Regions from separate parts of the Homo sapiens genome. Here region 1 is linked to region 2. Evidence: fine-mapped expression QTL. Tissue or cell type: macrophages. Region 2 holds a variant in brackets; the other region holds the start of a gene. All regions are shown on one strand. Distances are between the middles of the regions.

Region 1 (8,000 bases), 23 kb before region 2:
CCCTGTCTCTACAAAAAATACAAAAATTAGGCCGGGCACAGTGGCTCCTGCCTGTAATCCCAGCACTTTGGGAGGCTGAGGCGGGTGGATCACCTGAGGTCAGGAGTTCGAGACCAGCCTGGCCAACATGGTGAAACCCCGTCTCTACTAAAAATACAAAAAAATTAGCCAGGTGTGGTGGCACACTCCTATAATCCCAGCTACTCAGGAGGCTGAGGCAGGAGAATCGCTTGAACCTGGGAGGTTGAGGTTGCAGTGGGCCGAGATCACGCCATTGCACTCCAGCCTGGGCGACAGAGCAAGACTCCATCTCAAAAAAAAAAAAAATTAGCTGGACATGGGGGCATGGGCTGGTAGTCCCAGCTACCGGGGGTTCTGAAGCAGGAGGACTGCATGAGCCCAGGAGGTCGAGGCTGCAGTGAACCGTGATCATGCTACCGCACTCCAGCCTGGGTGACAGAGCAAAACTCTGTCTCTATAAATAAAAAATTAAATTAAAATAAAAGTATAATTAGATGTAAGGCATTAACTGGAATGAAAACATGATAAATGATTTCTATATCAAATAAATGCAAATTAAACCCTTTTTTTATTTACTAAATTAGCCCAAATTAAAAACAAATTATAATATCCACAGCTGTCAAGAGCATAAACACGCTCAAGTCAAAAACCTAGGTGGCTAGGTCCCAAAGAATTGAAAACAGGGACTCAAATGGACACTTGTACACCTCTGTTCATAGCAGTGTTATTCACAATAGCCAAAATATGAAAACAACCCGAGTGTCCATTAACAAATGAATGAATTAAAAAACGTGGCATAGGCTTGGTGCGGTGGCTCACGCCTGTAATCCCAACACTTTGGGAGGCCGAGGTGGGTGGATCACAAGGTCAGGAGATCGAGGCCATCCGGGCCAACATGGTGAAACCCCGTCTCTACTAAGAATACAAAAAATTAGCTGGGTGTGGTGGTGTGCACCTGTAGTCCCAACTACTCAGGAGGCTGAGGCAGGAGAGTCGCTTGAACCCGGGAGGCGTAGGTTGCAGTGAGCCAAGATCGTGCCACTGCACTCCAGCCTGGGTGACAGAGCGAAATTCAGTCTCAAAAAAAAAAAAAAGTGCAATATACATGCAATGGAATATTACTCAGCCTTAAAAAGAAAGTCTACATTCAACAACACAGATGAACCTTAAGAACATCACAATAAGTGAAGTAAGTCAGCCACAAAAGGATAAATACAGTATGATTTCACTTATGTGGTTCCCAGAATAAGCAAACTCATACAGACAGTAGAATAGTGGTTACCAGGGAGGAGTGGAAGCAAGCAATAGGGAACTATTGTTTTGAAGGGTATGGATTTTCTGTTCAGGATGATCTGGAAATAGTGGCGATGGTTAAACAACATTGTGAATGTACTTAATGTTATTTAATTGCACACTTAAAAATTGTTAAAATGGCAAATTTTATGTTATGTATATTTTACCACAATAAACAAACAGAAACCCTGGATGTCATCCTTGATTCCTAACTCGAGTCAAATCCAATCCATCACCAAGTCTTAGTGATTCTGCGACAATGTCTTATACCGTATTTGCCTCTTTTCTTTATTCTCAGCTTCCTCACCAGAGGCCAAGCCACTATCATCTCAACTCAGCCATCACAACAGTCCATTCCACACACGACAGCAACACAGCCTCCAAAGCTCTGCTTATTGTGCTTCCTGCCCTACCTCTCTGATCTGACCATATCATACGGTAGTGTCCCCTCTACCATAAGCTGGTCTCTTTCAGGTCCTCAAACTAAGCCAAGTTCTTTCAGGCTTCAAGGTTTTTCACATCTCACATACTGTTTCCTCTTCCTGGTCTACTTTTCCTCAGTGTCTGGATCCCTGCCATCTATCAGTCTTACATGTCACCCCTTTAGGTCTTCCCTGACCACCCTATCAAAAGTGGGTTTCTGGCCAGGTACGGTGGCTCATACCTGTAATCCCAGCACTTTGGGAGGCCGAGGCAGGTGGATCAGTTGGGGTCAGGAGTTCGAGACCAGCCTGGCCAACATGGTGAAACCCCGTCTCTACTAAAAATACTAAAATTAGCTGGGTGTGGTAATCCCAGCTACTCGGGAGGCTGAGGAAGGAGAATCACTTGAACCCAGGAGGCGGAGATTGCAGTGAGCCAAGATCGCACCACTGCACTCCAGCCTGTGTGATAGAGTGAGACTCTGTCTCAAAAAAAAAAAAAAAAAAAAAAAAAAAGTGGGTCTCCTTCCTCACTGTTATTCTCCTTAACAGCAAACAATCTGCCTCCATCAGTGTGCACTTACCACATTTGGCATGTGTTTACTCATTTGTCATCTGCCTCCCATGATTACCAGCATCGGGATGGCAGGGACATTGTGTCATTTAACACTATTTACCCAAGTGCCAGGCATAAGGCTGGCACACAGTAGGCATTTTAAAATGCTTGTTGGCCAGACACGATGGCTCACACCTATAATCCCAGCACTTTGGGAGGCCAAAGCGGAAGGACTGCTTGAGGCTAGGAGTTCAAGATCAGCCTTGGTAACATAGCGAGGCCTCGTCTCTATAAAATTAAGAAAAAAAAGTTTGTTGAATAAATAAATAGTGTTCAGTCCTTTAAAAACATTCCACTGTGATTTTGGTTGGGGTTGCAGGCTAAGGGGAGGTTATGAAGCATCTTCAAAGCTAGGAAAAACATAAGTTAAAAAAAAAGAAAAGAAAAAGAAAAAGAACAGTGAATTCCTGGCAGACAGTGAGCAAAGCAGTAACATGAAGTAAATGGTGACAGGGTTGGATTGGGGGAAGATCCTGTAATTTGGAAGGCTATGATTTCTCCCCCTTAACTAGTCAGAAAACAAACAATGGCAAGTGAAGTAAATTGACGCTGAAAGTCAACATTTGCTATTATAAAATAAGAACTTCTTGAAGACAACCGTGAATCCATCCTGCTCTTTCAGTAGCATTTCTCTTCTTTCCTCTCTTACCTTGGTGTCTTGGGGTTGGAGTATAAATACTTGCAACCTCTTCGGAGTCGTTAATCTCTAGACGCTCATCATATGTCTGGTTTTCAACAACCTTGGTCTAAGCAAAGGGAGACATAATTCATAGCTCCTATCATGAGACATAAAGCACTCTGCCAGGAGGTATATTCCAAACCAGCATTGGCTCCTCTTCCTTACTCAAGAAACCAGTTTTTCACAAAACCATCACCCCATCCAAACTTTCCTTCAGGCTTCCTGGCCCTCGGTCAAGCAGTTAAGTCATTCTGTTGCAGCCCTTATTTAGGAACTGCTGGCAGGCTGGCTGAGGAACCAGGGAATCGTGGAGGGAAAGAGAGCCAACTTCTGCAGCTTCCCAAAGCTGTACGACCACGCGCAAGGGCAGAACACTATTTGTATGTAGATGGCCAAGGCTGTTGAGGTTTCTCAGGGAAGGCTGTAGAGGTTCTAGAAAGAGTTCTGTCTCTGGAGTCACCTCTGGGGTGGGGTGGGGTGGGGTGGGGTGGGGTGGGGTGGGGTGGGCTGAGGCGGGGTAGGGTGGGAGGGTCCCCGAAGAGAGGGGAAACTCCAGTCTCTCAGTCCCATCCGATAATCCCAAAATCATCACCTCCACTTTCACCCTTATCTTGCAGATAGGATCCCACCTAAGTTTCTTGGGGGAATAAAGGAAGCAGGACGGTTGGTGGTGAGGTGACGAAGGAACAGTTACCACGGAGATTGGAAGAGGTAACCGGGAATGGGGTAAAGGGGAGTCCTCTTAAGCCTCTCTAGAAAGACAGTTCCCTTTTTGCTGGGATGAGTACTAATTACCTGTAGCCCTTCTGAATCCGTCTCCTCTATAATGGAAAGAACCCCAGCCTAGGGCTGGGGTCTCACTCCAGTCTCAAAGCCAGGCCACTTTAGGATTCCACGCCAAGCAACCAGCCTGTTGTCAGTCGCTAGGCAAAAAGATAAATTTTAAAATTCGCGAGAGTTGCTTCCACTCTCGTGAGACCTCCTGCGCGTTAAGCCTCACCCGCGAAGGCTCTCCACGCAGGAAGAAGATCAAGGAGTCACGGATAAAGCCTCTCTGGGCGGCCAAGTCGCCTGTTTGTCTATGGTTTCAGTAAATACGTCTGTTGCGGCATCTAGCGGCTATGGGTGGCAACGCGGCTGATAAATTTCGGGCTGGTGTAGAGTTAGCCCTTCAATCTGGAAACAAGGTGTGCGTTTGTTCCCCTAGGACAACAATCTCTGGGGATGCAGTTGCTCCCAGATCAGTCTTACCAGGATGTAGACACATTCCAGGGGAAATTTCGCAGCACTCTGTAAGTCCTTTTCTAGCACTATATTACACTATAGTCTTTCCCCTCCACAGGGTGCCATGGAATGGAACATACTTATAGCAATAAATTATTCCTTGGGTATCTGAGGTTCAAATTTAACTCTGTGGGCCGGGCGCGGTGGCTCACGCCTGTAATCCCAGCACTTTGGGAGGCCAAGGCGGGCGGATCACGAGGTCAGGAGATCGAGACCATCCTGGCTAACACGGTGAAACCCCGTCTCTACTAAAAAATTCAAAAAATTAGCCGGGCGTGGTGGCGGACGCCTGTAGTCCCAGCTACTCGAGAGGCTGAGGCAGGAGAATGGCATGAACCCAGGAGGCGGAGCTTGCAGGGAGCCGAGATCGCACCACTGCACTCCAGCCTGGGCAACAAAGCGAGACTCCGTCTCAAAAAAAATTTTTTTTCACTCTGTGTCCTGTCTTTCTTATTTGCTAAAGTAGACTTTTAACTTATTTAAAGCAAGACCTGTGTCTAATTAATTTTTAAGCTTTGTAACACCAGTGTATTGCAGAAATTAGACACTAACAATGCTCATTGGGTGGATGAATCGAGGAATGAGTGAATGGAGATGTAAGGAACAAATATTTTCAAACTGTGGACATAATTAATTTGGGAAGTCAGGGAGAGAGAAACATAAAATATTGGAGGCCAGGTGCGGTGGCTCACACCTGTAATCCCAGCACTTCAGGAGGTAGAGGTGGGACGATTGCTTGAGTTCAGGAGTTTGAGACCAGCTAGAGCAACATAGCAAGAACCGCCCCCCTCCACTCTATTAAAAATAAAAAAAAAATTTTTTTTAATTAGCCAGGTGTGGTGGCACGCACCTATAGTGCTAGCCACTCGGGAGGCTGAGGCGGGGGGATTGCTTGAGCCAGGGAGGCAGAGGTTGCAGTGAACCGAGATTGGGCCACTGCATTCACTCCAGCCTGGGCAACAGATCAAGACCCCATCTCAAATATAAATAATGAATAATAACAATAATAATTTTTTGGTCGGGCACGGTGGCTCACGCCTGTAATCCCAGCACTTTGGGAGGCCAAGGTGGGTGGATCACAAGGTCAGGAGTTCAAGACCAGCCTGACCAACATGGTGAAACCCCCGTCTCTACTAAAAATACAAAAATTAGCTAGGCATGGTGGCGCGCGCCTGTAATCCCAGCCACTCAGGAGGCTGCGGCAGGAGAATTGCTTGAACCCGGGAGGTGGAGGTTGTGGTGAGCCGAGATCGCACCACTGCACTCCAGCCTGGGCGACAGGGCGAGACTCCGTCTCAAAATAATAATAATAGCAATACATTTTAAAAAGAAAATAATATTGGAAATTTGACCCTGAAAACCTACCAGAGGTAAACAAGGAAAGTGCCTTTAAAAAATGAGAGACAGCTTTTCTGGCATACTGATAGTTAAAAATAGAACTGCATTTAAAAAAAAATTTGTGATCTGTTTTGCTCGTAATAGTGGATATGTAATGTGCAGTACTTACTATGTAGGAGCACTTAGTTTTTTTGTGGGGAGCACTTAGATTATATCATCTAATTTACTTCACAACCTTATGAGATAGATGTTACTGCCAATCTACAGATTAAGTAATTGAGGCTTAGACAGTTAAAGTAACTTGCCTAAAGTCACTCATAATAAGCGCTGAAAATAGCAGCCAAACACAGGTCAGTCTGATTCCTAAGTCTCTGCTTTTAACCATTATAAGATACTGCCACTATGGGACTCCTCAAGAAGCATGCTTACAGGGTTGCTTTTTCTTCTGTGGTTTAATTCAGCTACCGTTATATTTCCGAAGAAGCAGCATCAACTGGTCTTTGCTGAGCTTCTGAGATCCAAGTTGGAAGCCCTGGAAGGTGCTACAATAAGGCAATAGTTTCTAACAGGATTTTTACTTTTCTAAAAAAATAAGAATTTGTTCCATGTTTCTTAAAATATGTCTGCTTTTTGTAACAAAAATTAAAATTGGGCCAGGTGAAGTGGCTCACGCCTGTAATCCTAGGACTTTGGGAGGCCGAGGCAGGTGGATCACCAGAGGTCAAGAGTTCAAGACCAGCCTGTCCCAACATGGTGAAACCCCCATCTCTACTAAAAATACAAAAATTAGCCAGGTGTGGTGGTGCATGCCTGTAATCCTAGCTACTCAGGAGGCTGAGACAGGAGAATCGCTTGAACCCGGGAGGCGGAGGTTGCAGTGAGTTAAGATGGCACCACTGCATTCTAGCCTGGGCGACAGAGTGAGACTGTCTCAAAATAAATAAATAAATAATAAATAAATAAATAAAAAGTTACCCCATAAATGTGTACAGTTGTTATCTTTTTTAGGACATTTCATCATCCCCTAAAGAAAGTTTGTACCCATTGTCACTTTTTTTTTCTTTTTTTGAGACAGGGTCTCACTCTGTCGCCCAGGCTGGAATACAGTGACGAGACCTCAGCTCACTGCTATCTCTGCCTCGGGGTTCAAGCGATTCTCCCACCGAGTAGCTGGGACTATAGGCATGGGCCACCACGCCCAGCTAATTTTTGTATTTTTAGTAGAGATGGGGTTTCACCATGTTGCTCAGGCTGGTCTGGAATTCCTGACCTCAAGTGATCCGCCCACCTCGGCCTCCCAAAATGCTGGGATTACAGGCGTAAGCCACCGCACCTGGCCAGTGGGTACAAGTATTATGTGTCAATTAGAAAATTTAAAAATAGGCCGGGAGCTGTGGCTCACGCCTGTAATCCCAGCACTCTGGGAGGCTGAGGCAGGCAGATCACTTGAGGTTAGGAGTTCAAGACCAGCCTGGCCATGGTGAAACCCCATCTCTACTAAAAATACAAAAAACTAGCCAGGCGTGGTCGTCCATGCCTGTAATCCCAGCTACTTGGGAGGCTAAGTCAGGAGAATCCCTCCAACCCAGGAGGCAGAGGTTGCAGTGAGCTGAGATCATACCATTGCACTCCAGCCCGGGCAACAAAAGCGAAACTCCTTCTCAAAAAAAAAAAATTTTTTTTTTTAAAATATTGACTGGGCTCAGTGGCTCATTCCTGCAATCCCAGAACTTTGGGGGGACAAGATGGGAGTACTGCTTGAGGTCAGGAGTTCGAGACCAGCCTGGGCAACATAGCAAGACCCCCATCTCTCTAAAAAAGTTTTTTTAATGAAAAAAAACTTTAAAATACAGTTTGACATATATCCTCCCAGACATATAAAATTTAAAAATATTTGAGCTTTCTAAAGATTTCTATTAGAAGGCCATTGGAGATGGAATTGATACGGGTAAGAGCAAGAAGTCTATAATGCAGTGCTTAAGGGTATAGTCCAAAGTTGAACAGCCTTTGTTTGAATCCTCGCTTACCTACTTTTTAGCCATGAGACCTGTGGTGGGATAGTTTTCTTCTCTGTACCTTGATTTCCTCATGTGTAAAATGGAGACAATAAAGGTACCTATCTCAGAGGATTCTTGTGAGGATTAAATGAGATAATCTGTGTGAAGTTAGAGTAATGGCTGGTATGCTGTAAGTGTTCAATAAATGTTAGGGAACACACAGGAGATACAGAGGCAGTGTGTTTTAATGGAAAAAGCTGACTTTGTTTTTTTGTTTGTTTGTTTTGAGACTGAGTGTTACTCTGTTGCCCAGTCTGGAGGGCAGTGTTGTGATCTCAACTCACTGCAAC
Region 2 (8,210 bases):
AACTTTGTGGACAAATTAAAATCTGAAGGTGAAACCATCATGTCCTCTAGTATGGGCAAGCGTACTTCTGAAGCAACCAAAATGCATGCTCCACCCATTAATATGGAAAGGTAAGTAGGAACTTTGAGTAAGAATTCAAGCTTTGAATACAGTCCACATAATTTTTTAAAAATCTTATTTCAGTGTGCTATAAATTCTTTCTCTGTCTTTTAATCGTTCCTGATTTAAAAGATTTATTCAGAGCAGATTCTACATATTAACATAAGATCGTTTTTGGTTTTGTTTTGTTTTATTTACTTATTTTTTTTTGAGATGGAGTCTCACTCTGTCACCCAGGCTGGAGTGCAGTGGTGTGATCTCGGCTCGCTGCAAGCTCTCCCTCCCAGGTTCACGCCATTCTCCTGCCTCAGCCTCCCGAGTAGCTGGGACCACAGGCGCCCACCCCTACGCCCGGCTAATTTTTTTGTATTTTTAGTAGAGATGGGGTTTCGCCGTGTTAGCCAGAATGGTCTCGATCTCCTGACCTTGTGATCCGCCTGACTCAGCCTCCCGAAGTGCTGGGATTACAGGCGTGAGCCACCACGCCCGGCTGTTGTTTTGTTTTATTTTTTTGAGACAGGGTCTTACTATGTTGTCTAGGCTGGCCTCCAACTCCTGAGCTCAGTTAATCTTCCTGCCTCAGCCTCCCAAGTAACTGGGATACAGGCATGCGTTGCTGCACCTGACCTTTTCCTTTTTCCTTAAACCATGATTGGGGGCCCTCAGCCACCTATTTTCTATGAAGTTTAGAACTTTCCTTTTACAGCTAAATTAAAGTTACTTGTAGTCACACCTGGTATATAGCGTATCTCTTAGAATGCACTTGAATTAGGGGACTAGAGCTATGGTGACCCCACACTGTATTTTGGCATGACTTTTTCTAATTAAAGTCTAAGTAGAACCAATCTTTAATCCAAAACTTGTAGATATCTTTAATAGCAAATTAATATATTTTGCATTTTTATTTTATTTATTTATTTTTTTGAGATGGGGTTTCACTCTGTCACCCAGGCTGGAGTACAGTGGTGCAATCTCAGCTTGTTGCAACCTCTGCCTCCCAGGTTCAAGTGATTCTCCCACCTCAGCCTCCCAAGTAGCTGGGACTACAGGCATGCACCACCACGCTGGGCTAATTTCTGTATTTTGGTAGAGATGGGGTTTTGCCTTGTTGCCCAGGCTGGTCTCGAACTCCTGGACTCAAGCAATCTGCCTGCCTCGGCCTCACAAAGTACTGGGATTACAGGCGTCAGCCACCATGCCCAGCCATCTTTTGCAGTTTAAATATTTGAAGCCAGTATGGAATATTTTGATTCATCTCTTATCTCAGGGCTGTGGTACTGGTTGGTGACATTTTTAAGTGGTAGTTATCAAGTTCACATATTCGTGACTCAGATTTCTCGTCTTGAAGCCAGACCTTCTACTGTTGCTGATGGTTTTGAGGTCAAGTGAAAGATAATACCAGGAGGATACCTTTATCAGGTGTGCATAAAAGAGGAGTATTTACTCTTTTTCTTTCTTCTTTCCTTTCTTTCTTCCTTTCTTTCTTTCTTGACAGAGTCTTGCTCTGTCTCCCAGACTGGAGTGCAATGGCACGATCTTGCAACCTCCACCTCCCGGGGTCAAGCAATTCTCCTGCCTCAGCCTCCCAAGTGGCTGGGATTACAGGTGCACGCCATCACACCCGGCTAATTTTCTTATTTTTAGTAGAGACAGAGTTTTGCCGTGTTGGCCAGGTGGGTCTCGAACTCCTGACCTCAAGTGATCTGCCTGCCTCTGCCTCCCAAAAGTGCTTGGATTATAGGCGTGAGCCACCGTGCCCAGCCAAGTATTTACTCTTTATATGCCCTGTTCTGTATGAAATGAACAGGGTTACATTGGGATAAATTTCTTGATTCACTAAAGCCGCTGTGCTCTTCCTAGTGGTTGCTTTGAGTGAGACAGAGGCTTCACACTTTTAAAAAGATATTCCTGAGTGCAGTGGCCCACACCTGTAATCTTAGCACTTTGGGAGGCTGAGGTGGGCGGATTGCCTGAGCTCAGGAGTTCAAGACCACCCTGGGCAACATGGTGAAACTCCATCTCCACTAAAATACAAAAAATTAACCCCTTCTCCACTAAAATACAAAAAATTAGATGGGCGTGGTGGCACACACCTGTAGTCCCAGCTACTCAGGAGGCTGAGGCAGGAGAATTGCTTGAACCCGGGAAGCAGAGGTTGCAGTGAGCCAAGATGGTGCCACTGCACTCCAGCCTGGGCGACAGAGTGAGACTCTATCTCCAAAAAAAAAAAAAAAAAAAAAATGTTGGAGATCATCACATATTAAAGAGAATTTGAGACACTGTTTTTTTCTAAATGATAAATTGCCTCTTGAGCACAGAGCAAACTTTTGTGAAGGTAAAATGGTACCATGCATTGTCTTAAGATGCACTCCTTTATGGTCTTGACTCTGATGCCTTTGTTTCTAGGAAGACCTAAGAGGTTGGAACAAAGAACATGGTAGGATAACAAAATATTTTTTGTAGCCTCTGTAGTTCATCCAGCCAAACGTATGTCTATTACTGAATATGAATAGATTGTACTTAATACTTGCCTCTAGCAGCAGCAGTTTTTAATCTTTTAAAAATTGGATTATACATTCATATAGTACAAAATTCAAAAGTTGTTAACAGTCAGAAGTCTTCCTCTCACTCAGCCATGCCAGTTTCTCATTTTGGAGACAACTAGTATTAACAGAGTTTTTTGTGTATCCTTCTAAGGGGGATGGTCTGTGATATACAGATGAATAAAAAACATGTATACAGTGTGTCTATTTTTCCCCCTTTTATGCAAAGCAGTAAAACTAGACACGTCTTCCAATTGCATTTTTCATTTAATTATTTTGGAGATAAGAATCTCCTTATTTGAAACTGCAGAGATATGACATCTAAATGCGCAATACCTTACCCTAGACTGGATCCTCTACTAATGTAGTGTAGAAAAAACAACTCAAACTGTTTGTTTTTTCTATTTTCTCATTCAACAGCAACAATGAACACAGAAGACTTCTGTGATCAAGTGTGTTTAGATTTTTCCGCACACATCAAGCGGTCACACCTAGCTGGTGTCCTCCAATTCAATTCAATTCTGATGCTATCTACCTGGGAATAGCCTCAGATTCTACAGGTTGAGAGTTCAGTCCCCCAAGACTGATTCTTCCTTCCCACCAGTCATAAGTCCAGACTTTCAGAACTTCTTACTGACCTCAAGTTTGGCCTCCCACGACCCCCTCTGGGGTGTTCAATTAATCTGCTAGAGCACCTCACAGAACTCAGGGAAACTTACTTGACATTTATCAGTTTGTTACAGAGGACATTTTAAAGGATGCAAATAAGCAGCCAGATGAAGAGATACATAGGGCAAGGTCTGGGAGGGTCTTGAGCACAGGAGCTTCTGTCCCCAGGGAGCTGGGGTACGCCACCCTCCTGGAAAATAGATGAGACCTTGTTCATCTTCCTGTAAGCCTGCATGTGTTCAGCTGTCCAGAAGCTTCCCAGACCCTGTCCTCTTGAGCCTTTTATGGAGACTTCATTGGATAGGCATGATTGACAGGCATGCAGAAATGTGACTGGGCAAGGGTATGACCTAATACTGATAGGCTGAGTGGGGAAACACAGCAAGGCCTGTCCAAATTCTTGGCCTCTCTGTGCAGCATTAATCTTCCTCCAGGATATGGTGCAGGACCCCTTTTGGAGATCCTGCCTTGGGCTGGTGAAAGGAGGGCAGGAGAAGGTCAAAGAGAGGTTCTTTTTTCTAAGGGCTGCTCCTGAGGCCTAAAGTGCCCCAACATTATGTATAATAAGGGATATGGGAGTTATGAGCTAGGAACCATGGATGAAAACCGGTATGTATGTATATCATAATATCACAACTACTATTAAAAATATTATTAGGTCAACTGACGAAATTGACATATGGTTGACAGATCGGATACAATTATTGTATCATTGTTAGCCTGGCATGATGGCACATGGCTGTAGTCCTTCCTACTCAGGAGGCTGAGGCAGGAGGATCACTTGAGACCAGGAGTTCAAGGTTATAGTGAACTGTGATTGTGTCTCTGAATAGCCACTGCACTCCAGCCTGGGCAACATAGCAAGATCTGTCTCTTAAACAACAACAACAGGCTGGGTGCGGTGGCTCACGCCTGTAATCCCAACACTTCGGGAGGCCGAGGCAGGCAGATCACCTGAGGTCAGGAGTTCAAGACCAGCCTGGCCAGCATGGTAAAACTCTGACTCTAGTAAAAATACAAAAATGAACCGGGCGTGGTGGCAGGTGCCTGAAATCCCAGCTACGCAGGAGGCTGAGACAGGAGAATCACTTGAACCCGGGAGGCAGAGGTTGCAGTGAGCCGAGATCACGCCATTGCACTCCAGCCTGGGCAAGAAGAGTGAAACTCTATCTCAAAACAACAACAACAAAAAGCTAAAAAAACTATCAGTGTAAATTTGTGAAGTTAATAATGGTACTGTGATTGATTATGTAAGAGAATATCCCTAATCTTATAAAATAAGCACTGAAGTATTTAGGGGTAAAGTGCCGTGTTGTATATAATCTGCTTCTTAATGGTTCAGGGAAAAAAAATCAAATGTATAACATACATATATAATGTTTAGAGAGAGAGAAACACAAGTGCAAATTATAAAACAAATGAGGTAAATATTAACAATAGGTGAATCTGGAAAAGGGTATATATGTCTTCCTTGTATAATTTTAATTTTTTTAAGCTTGAAAATACTTACAAATAGAAAGTTTTTTCAGTTGTTTGTTTTCTCACCATTGCCTACTATTCATTCGGGTGGATATGC[C/CTTTATTT]TTTATTTTTTATTTTTTATTTTTTTGAGACAGAGTCTCACTCTGTTGCCCAGGCTGGAGTGCAGTGGCACCATCTCGGCTCACTGCAAGCTCCGCCTCCTGAGTTCACGTCATTCTCCCACCTCAGCCTCCTGAGTAGGCGCCCGTCACCACACCCGGCTAATTTTGTTTTTGTATTTTTAGTAGAGGTGGGGTTTCACCATGTTAGCCAGGATGGTCTCGATCTTCTGACCTCGTGATCTACCCGCCTTGGCCTCCCAAAGTGCTGGGATTACAGGCGTGAGCCACCACGCCCGTGAATATGCCTTTATTTGAGCAGCCCCCTATTGGCAGACATGTTTCTAAACTTTTGCCATTACAAACAATTCTTCAGTGAATAACTTAGCAGATTGTTTTGCACAGGTGAGAATTTATCTGTAGGATAGAGTCTGTTGAAGAATTGCTGTATCAAAGGGTATCGCCTTTTAAATGTTGATAGCTATAGCAGTAGCACCTTTAAAAAAACGTTGTTGATGGCTAATCATTAGACCTTGGAGAAAGGGAGTTCTGATTTCTACCTTTCTTTTTTCTTTTCTTTTCTTTTTTATTTTTTGAGACAGAGTTTCACTCTTGTTGCCCAGGCTGGAGTGCAGTGGGACAATCTCGGCTCACCACAGCCTCTGCCTCGTGGTTCAAGCGATTCTCCTGCCTTAGCCTCCCAAGTAGCTGGGACTACAGGCATGCACCACCACGCCTGGCTAATTTTGTATTTTTAGTAGAGACGGGGTTTCTCCATGTTGGTCAGGCTGGTCTCGAACTCCCCACCTCAGGTGATCTGCCCGCCTTGGCCTCCCAAAGTGCTGGGGTTATAGGCATGAGCCACCACGCCCGGCCATTGGTTTCTACCTTTCTGAACAAATGTATTACTTTCTCTTTATAGTGTACATATGAAGATTGAAGAAAAGATAACATTAACCTGTGGACGAGACGGAGGATTACAGAATATGGAGTTGCATGGCATGATCATGCTTAGGATCTCAGATGACAAGTATGGCCGAATTCGTCTTCATGTGGAAAATGAAGATAAGAAAGGGGTGCAGCTACAGGTGTGTAGAAGCTTTTGATAGGGAGTATTAACACTTTGTCTACCTATTATAGTCTTTCTCAACTAGAGTTCCCAATATGAACCACAGAAAATTACTTAAGTTATATAACTAGCATCACTCTAAACGCTTAGGAAAGAAGTTAATATATTGCATACAGTAGCTACCTGAGAGTGAGTAAAGCAGCTGTGTAAGGATGGCTTTTAAATATTGGAATTGAATAAAAGGTCATTTCGAAATCTAATAAATGACTTCATACTCACCAATAAAAGGTACAAGGAGGTGTTTGTCTTTTGCTGTTATGAAAACAGTAAATTAATCACTTAGGATCTTGCTTGAAATACAGTTTTAAAAAAACAAGGCTTTAGGCCAAGTGTGGTGGCTCATGCCTATAATACCAGCACTCTGAGAGGCTGAGGCTGAAGGATCGCTTGAGCCCAGGAGTTCAAGAACAGCCTGAGCAATGAGGGCTGAGCAACAAGACCCTATCTCTACAAAAACTTAAAAAATTAGCCAGGCGTGGTGGCACAATGCGAAATTTACTCATTCTGCTATTAAATAAACTGCCAGTGCTTGTTTTGTTAACTGAAGGGCAGTATCTAATGGTGTATTTGAAAAGTACATAAAATCCTTTCAATATAAGTGTGTGTGTTCCAACTATTGGATAGATATATATAAGCCCTGCTTTATGTTACAGGTGTTCTTGTAATTTCATTTCATTTAGCCGACATCTCGTCACAAGAACAAAGCCTTTTTACGGAAGAGTGTTTTTGTCTACTTTCCCCACCGTAGTCAGCACAGAATTGTCTTTTGGAAGCAGTGCTTATATTATTTGACATTTTTGCTGGCTTGTAAAGTGCTATCCAAAAGTGATTTCTGTTTTGTTTTGTTTTGTTTTGTTTTCCTGAGATGGAGTCTCTCTCTGTTGCCCAAGCTGGAGTTCTGTGGTACGATCTTGGTTCACTGCAACTTCTGCCTCCCCAGTTGAAGCAGTTCTCCTGCCTCAGCCTGCTGAGTAGCTGGGATTACAGGCACCTGCCACCATGCCCAGCTAATTTTTTTTATTTTTAGTAAAGATGGGGTTTCACCATGTTGGCCAAGCTGGTCTCGAACTCTTGACCTCATGATTCGCCCACCTCATCATCCCAAAGTGTTGGGATTGTAGTCATGAGCCACCATGCCCAGCCCTTCTGGGTTTTTTTTGTTTTTGTCTTGTTTTTTTGTTCTTTTTTTTGTTTTTTTTTTTGTTTTTGCACAGTCTCTCTCTGTCATGCGGGCTGGAGTGCAGCAGCACAACCTTGGCTCGCTGCAGCCTTAACCTCCTAGGCTCAAGCAATGCTTCCTCTTCAGCCTCCATAGTAGCTGGAACTATAGGTGTGCACCACCACACCCAGCTATTTATTTATTTATTTATTTATTTATTTTTTATTTTTTGAGACGGAGTTTCACTCTTCCTGCCCAGGTTGGAGTGCAATGGTGTGATCTCGGCTCACCGCAACCTCTGCCTCCCGGGTTCAAGCCATTCTCCTGCCTCAGCCTCTCGAGTAGGTGGGATTACAGGCGTGCGCCACCATGTCCAGCCCCAGCTAACTTTTGTATTTTTAATAGAGATAGGGTTTTGCCATGTTGGCCAGGCTGATGTCAAACTCCTGACCTTCAATGCCCCTCTCACCTCAGCCTCCCCAAAAGCAATTTCTTTTAAAAAGATAAGACTATCTTAATTGGCTTGGATTTTAACAACTTTAAGTCTCTAGGCAAAATTGCAACTAGACTTTACACAGAGCTTGCCCTTTTCTGCTACTTTATATAAGGCCAGAACTGCTGTCTGACCCAGGCAGCTGATCAGGGTCTTACTGGAGCCTTCTGCTTGGCAAACCTGGCCCCACCATGAACCTGCTCCCTGTGAAGTATTTTTGGAAAGAACTTGGTTAATAGTCTTTTAACTTTTTCAGGTGCAAACTTGTTCTGTAATGGCTTTTAGAGTTGAAATTAGCTTTTTTTTTAAAAAATTACTAGTTTTTAAGTATCTTAAATCATTTTAAAATAAGTCTTTGAAGAAGGGAAATCTTTCTTCAAAATGAAAAAGAATTGGAATTTGTTAGGTACTCTATTTTGGATGTTTAGATTGTGGGCCATATAAGCCTAGTGAGGGGTTGTTTCTCGTCTATCTGAACCTCAGGAGTTTTCCTTTCCCTCTCATTCTAGACCCATCCAAATGTGGATAAAAAACTTTTCACTGCA

Direction of the effects. Positions count from the first base shown, and alleles are read on the strand shown. Sizes are in standard deviations (SD) of each study's normalised expression.
For the expression in macrophages of the gene that starts at base 3,968 in region 1, allele CTTTATTT in region 2 goes with a higher level than allele C (large effect, 1.4 SD a copy in Nedelec 2016).

What was found. PIP is the estimated chance that this variant, and not a neighbour inherited with it, causes the effect.
Region 1: it holds the start of IFT46, and the variant in region 2 is fine-mapped to the expression of IFT46 in macrophages (Nedelec 2016, PIP 0.91).

The regions. Positions count from the first base shown.
Region 1 is chr11:118,561,964-118,569,963 of GRCh38, forward strand. IFT46 (intraflagellar transport 46) reads right to left here and starts at 3,968. Exons shown (of 12, transcript NM_001168618.2): 1 at 3,827-3,968; 2 at 3,002-3,098. LOC124902764 (a long non-coding RNA gene) reads left to right here and starts at 3,098. Exons shown (of 4, transcript XR_007062907.1): 1 at 3,098-3,411; 2 at 3,649-3,742; 3 at 4,239-4,323; 4 at 6,115-6,636. RefSeq lists an enhancer at 4,011-4,240.
Region 2 is chr11:118,584,535-118,592,744 of GRCh38, forward strand. It overlaps ARCN1 (archain 1 coat protein complex I subunit delta), which reads left to right. Exons shown (of 10, transcript NM_001655.5): 5 at 1-110; 6 at 5,807-5,972; 7 at 8,175-8,210. Among named protein-coding and RNA genes, the nearest start is that of ARCN1, 16 kb to the left of the region's middle. RefSeq lists a silencer at 6,292-6,502. The variant C/CTTTATTT (reference allele first, on the strand shown) is at 4,888.